Linked DNA regions of Homo sapiens: region 1 is linked to region 2. The links come from fine-mapping of genetic effects on gene expression. A gene starts in region 2. The other region holds a variant in brackets. All regions are shown on one strand. Distances are from middle to middle.

Region 1 (2,908 bases), 36 kb after region 2:
TTTTTTTTTTTTTGGAAACAGGGTGTCACTCTGTCGCCCAGGCTGGAATACAATGGTGCGATCTCAGCTCACTGCAACCTCTGCCTCCCAGGTTCAAGCGATTCTCATGCCCCAGCCTCCCAAGTAGCTGGGACTACAGGCCTGCACCACCACACCCAGCTAATTTTTGTATTTTTAGTAGAGACGGGGTTTCACTATGTTGGCCAGGCTGGTCTCGAACTCCTGATCTCAGGTGACCCACCCACCTTGGCCTCCCAAAGTGCTGGGATTACAGGCATGAGCCACTGCGCCTGGCCTGATTAGGTTTTACGTGACAGTGGTAGCTTGCTGTTGGTTCTTGCTGTGCAGGGGTGGGATACAGCCAGACTGACTCCTGCTCAGTTTCCTGCTGTATTCAAGGGGTTTCTCCTTTTAGGTCAGGTCCTCAGTTATTGGAGGCCTGGGTAGAGGCCAAGAAGTGCAGTCATTGGTCATCCCTGCTTTCACAATGAAGATGGATGTCCAATGCATGTGGTCCCCAGTCATCTCTGCTTCTAGAATGTATGGAGCTCTCAGTCCTGCTGGAAAAGCTCCATGAAGTCAGAAGTACCTGAGGGTGTCCAGTGTATTTGTGCACAGCCACCTTTTAGATCCCTGTGTCCTTGACAGAACCAGTCATGGACTGAGTGGGAGGCAGCCTTTACTTTGCCTAGGGAGTTGATGCTGAGACATCCTCTGTTTTCTCTCCTAAGAGTAAGTCAGTTTTTTCCTCTGGTGGAAATACTGCCTTTTCTCATGTTGGAGGAGAACACTGAGTTTTCATGAGAACCGATTTAATGGAGGAAGGTGAGAATCTCTTTGGAGATTCCAAACCCTGGGTTTCTTTAGCAAACATTTTGATAGCATCTGTTGAAAAGGAAAGTTTAGGCCCAGATGGTGGCTCATGCCTATAATCCTTGCACTTTGGGAGGCTGAGACGGGCAGATCAGTTGAGCTCAGAAGTTCAAGAACAACTTGGGCAACATGGTGAAACCTCATCTCCACAAAAAAATATTTAGTAAAAAAATTAGCCATGCGTGGTGGTGCGTGCCTGTGGTCCCAGCTACTCAGGAGGCTGAAGCAGGAGAATCACTTGAGCCCCGGAGGTGGGGGTTACATTGAGCCAAGATCGTGCCAGTCTACTCCAGCCTGGGCAGCAGAGCCAGACCCTGTCTCAAAAAATAAAAAAGAAAGAAAAGGAAAGTTTGCAGCCTTTTTTCATGTTCCTGATTGTTGGGTTACATTTGTATAAGATGCTTCTGTAATAGGTTTTGTGGGAGGTGCCAGAAGAGAACCCCAAATCTGTCTTCTACATCAGACAATACACCAGAAATTAACCAGAAAGGTAAAAACCGTAAAACCTCAAATAGTTTGATTTGTAAAAACATTTTAAAGGCCAGGTGCAGTGGCTTACGCATGTAATCCCAGCACTTTGGGAGGCCAAGGCGGGTGGATCACAAGGTCAGGAGTTCGAGACCAGCCTGGCCAACACAGTGAAACCCTGTCTCTACTAAAAATACAAAAATTAGCTGGGCATGGTGGCAGGCGCCTGTAATCCCAGCTACTCGGGAGGCTGAGGCAGGAGAATCGCTTGAACCCAGGAGGCAGAGGTTGCAATGAGCCGAGATTGCACTACTGCACTCCAGCCTGGGCAACAGAGCTAGACTCTGTCTCAAAAAAAAAAAAAA[T/A]TTTTAAATATAATTCACATAACATAAATGTAATTATTTGGCCTGGTCCTGGTGACTCACAACTGGATTCCCATCACTTTGGGAGACTGAGGCAGGAGGATTGCTTGAGGCTGGGAGTTTGAGACCAGTTTGGGCAACAGAGCAAGACCCTGTTTCTTTAAAAAAAAAAAAAAAAAAAAAAAGTCATTTTTTAAGTGTACCATTCAGTGGAGTTTTGTTTTTAACAGATGGGTTCTTGCTGTATTGCCCAGGCCAGCCTTGAATTCCTAGGCTTAAGTGATCCTCCTGCCTCTGCTTCCCAAGTGACTGGGACTACAGGCACATGCTACTACACCCAGCTACAGTGGTTTTTAGTATGTTCACAATACTGTGCAGTCACATCTCTGGTGGTTGTTTTCTTTAAGTTATTTTTTCTGAATACCAAAAAATACATGCTTATTATAGAATGTTTTAAATATTCTACAAAAAAGAAAAAGGGAAGGAAAAAAAAAGTATTCCACAAAACTCCCCTCAAAAACAGATTTCACTGAGAGATCAGACTCCCCTGCATGAGGCAGATGGTCCAGGCCTGTGCATTATCATTGTGTCTTTTCTAGTTTGTGTCTAGCAGCAGTATATAGCAGTGCTCTTGGTAGTGGGACCATCTGAGTGACGTACATCTGTGCCCTAGCCAGCATTATAAAAGAACCTGTCTGAAAAAAACAGAAGACCTTAAGGACCAGCATACTGGATTCTGTAGCCATCTCTACCTTCTGGTCTCCAGACTCAGACAGACCCATTTGATATCCAGCCATGTCCCAGACAAGGAGCACATCTGGGTGGCATCTTGTTAGAAGGAGAATGCAAAGATCTCATAAAGTTTTGCCTTGCCTCTCCAAGTTTTTCAAGACAGTCTTATCAGAGTTTATTGATGGAAGAATTTTAGAGGCTGGAAAAGGTATTGCAGAAAAGAAAAACAATGTTTCTATTTTTTTTTTAAACTGATGTTTTGCCAGGCGCGATGGCTTACGCCTGTAATCCCAACACTTTGGGAGGCCAAAGCAAGTGGATCACTTGAGGTCAAGAGTTTGAGACCAGCCTGGCCAACATGATAAAACCCCATCTCTACTAAAAATACAAAAATTATAAGCCTGGTGGCGTGCTCCTGTAATCCCCGCTGCTCAGGAGGCTGAGGCAGGAGAATCACTTGAACCCGGGAGGTG
Region 2 (2,908 bases):
CCATGCTACAACACAGATAAACCTTGACAACCTCATGCTCAATGAAATAAGGTGGACACAAAAGGACATATACATTATGATTTCACCCACATAAAGTAATTGAGTAATCAAATGTATAGAGACCGTATAATAGAGGTTACCAAAGGAGAGAAGGACAGGAGGAGAAGGGGAAATAGGAAGTTATTGCTTAATGGTTACAGAGTTGCTGTTTCAGGTGATGAAAAAGTTTTGGAAATTGAGTGGTGACGGTTGCATAATATTGTGAATGTAATTAATGCCACTGAGTTATACACCTAAAAATGGTTAAAATGGCATTAAAAAAAAAAAGACAGTATCTTGCTCTCTGGCCCAGGCTGGAGTGCAGTGGTACAATCATAGCTCACTGCAGCCTCAATCTCTCAGGCTCAAGAGATCCTCCTGCCTCAGCCTCCCAATTAGCTGAGACTACAGGTGAGTGCCACTACACCTGGCTAATTTTCTTGATTTTTTAGTAGAAATGAGATCTTGCTCTGTTCCCCAGGCTGATCTGGAACTCCTGAGCTCAAGCGATCCTCCCGCCTCCACCTCCCGAAGTGCTGGGATTACAAGCGTGAGCCACTGCACCCAGCTGCAAATGTTTAGTACATACATTTTTACCGTAATTTATTTAAAAAAAAAAAAGGAAAAAAGAATACAGAAGTTTGTTCCTTGGTCTCTTCACCTCTTCCAGTCTCTAGATCCTTGTCACATACATTACCCTAACTTTGTTCTATAATAAGCACTTATACGCCCCCTTTTTTTGTTTGTTTTTTGAGACGGATTTTCGCTCTTGTTGCCCAGGCTGGAGTGCAATGGCACGATCTCGGCACACCGCAACCTCCGTCTCCCGGGTTCTAGCGACTCTCCTGCCTCAGCCTCCCGAGTAGCTGGGATCGCCACCACGCCCAGCTAATTTTTGTATTTTTAGTAGAGACGGGGTTTCCCCATGTTGGTCAAGCTGGTCTCGAACTCCTGACCTCAAGTGATCCGCCCGCTTCGGCCTCCCAAAGTACTGGGATTACAGGCGTGAGCCACCGCGCCCGGCCTTTCCCCAAATTTTAATACTTTAAAATAGGGAACATCTTACAATCAACAGGTTGTGACAGGTTAATTAGCCACGTTTTATCTTTGATAGGTAGCTCTAAAGTCAAGAAAACCCAGGCAAGATCCCGGGCAAGATCCCAGCACTGCCAACTGTCATTTGTAGACCGGGGATAGGAACACCTGTCTCACAGATTGTTACACAATAGCGCCGGTGAAGCGCTTGTCACAAAGCCTGACCCAGGACAATCTCAAAAACGGAGATTCTGTTATTCAAATTGTTTATTTTTGTGCGCTAAGTTTCACATCAACCCAACTATCTCTTGATAGGTTCCTACCAGGCGCTAGAGATATCTTACTTTCAGAAATTATTTATGATAGCAGAAGCCGCTGGAAGTCCATAGACAACCTCATCTCTCTAGCGGAGCAAACAGCTGGGCTCCAGCTGGCCCTGGCTTCTGCAACTGCGCAGTCGGCGCTGTGACGCCCGGCGCGGCTCTGTGACGTCACGAATCGGTCCTCTGTAAGAGGGGAGGGCATTCTTCTCCAGGGGAGGGCTACGTGTTGACGCCATACGCCGGGGCGGGGCCGAGAGTTTGGAGCCCCGGAGTGGGGTGTCGGCGCCTCATTCGGGTGGAGCTGAGCCGGAGACAGGTAACCGTGCGCTGTCGCCGCGCCCGTCCCAGTGCCGGGTGTCGCGGCGCTTGGCGGCCCGGGGTTGGAGATCGCGGTAAAGGGGGAGGCCGCCGCGCCCTTGGTGCTGCGGGCGCCGCGGTGACAGGGGAGTGGAGCTGGATGGAGTGGGGCTCACGGAGGGTGGTAGGAGGGACGGGACCTGATGGATGGCCGTGGCAGCCAATGGAGCCGCGGGGCCTGCCCGGCGGGCGGAGATTGGCGGGTACGGGCGGGCTCCGAGGTCGCGCGGGGCGCGGAGCGACGCGCCATTGGCGGTGGGCGAGCGGGGGGCGGGCGCGGCGGCGGATGTGAGGGAGAGGGCGGTGCGTCCGCAGGGGTGACCCCCAAGGTCGCCGCGGGCGTCACGTGGTTAGGCCGCTCTCCGACGGCGTCCTTCCCGACCGGGACGCACTCTCCTTCCCGCCTGTGAGGACCGCGTCGCTTTGTCCGAAAGACAGTGTGGCCTGCTCGAGTTGCGTCGGAGCATCTGGCTTTGGGGTGGCCCTGGGTGGGACTGCCTGTTTGGATTACCGCGCAGACCTTGGCGCCGCCCCCACACCTGCTGCCAGAAGTTGGGTCGAACAGATTGACCGAGATGAAGCTTATTTCTCGTAGAAACATCTTTCAAGCACCATTTTCCCTCGAAAATATATCAGACATTGGATATGAGTTGTAATCTACTGAGATTTAATAGAAAACTTGCCGCGCCCTCGCCCTGACCTGGGTGCGTCCCACCTGCCATCCCCATCCCTTTGCCCAGAACATAGGACTTCGTGTTAGGGTTTCCTTGTGCCTTGTCTTGCAGTCCGTACTTTGAGGCTGATTTCCAGGTACACTGCTCTGAACAGCTGGGTTTAGGATGGGTGGCATGGGATAAAGCCTTTTTTTGTAAGGCAGCACTAGTTGCAACAGTCAAACTGTACTTTGCCGTGTAGACCTAGGAGAGTATGTAACACTATTGTAGTTTTGTAAATTAGCTGAGGACTGGATCTTGGGAAGTTGAATAAAGATCACTGTATGCTCATTTTTTGTTGTTGTTGTCTTGTTTGAGATGGAGTCTCTGTCGCCCAGGCTGGAGTGCTGTGGCGCGATCTCGGCTCACTGCAACCTCTGCCTTCCTGGGTTCAAGTGATTCTCCTGCCTCAGCCTCCCAAGTAGCTGATATTACAGGCAC

The links. PIP is the estimated chance that this variant, and not a neighbour inherited with it, causes the effect.
Region 1: its variant is the best candidate, but not a certain one, in a credible set for the expression of OGDH in whole blood (TOPMed, PIP 0.71).

What each region holds. Positions count from the first base shown.
Region 1 is chr7:44,641,230-44,644,137 of GRCh38, forward strand. The region is part of intron 2 of OGDH (oxoglutarate dehydrogenase); the gene reads left to right. Among named protein-coding and RNA genes, the nearest start is that of OGDH, 36 kb to the left of the region's middle. The variant T/A (reference allele first, on the strand shown) is at 1,707.
Region 2 is chr7:44,604,941-44,607,848 of GRCh38, forward strand. OGDH (oxoglutarate dehydrogenase) reads left to right here and starts at 1,687. Exons shown (of 23, transcript NM_002541.4): 1 at 1,687-1,713. RefSeq lists enhancers at 1,247-1,846, 2,098-2,661, 2,337-2,676 and a silencer at 1,887-2,116.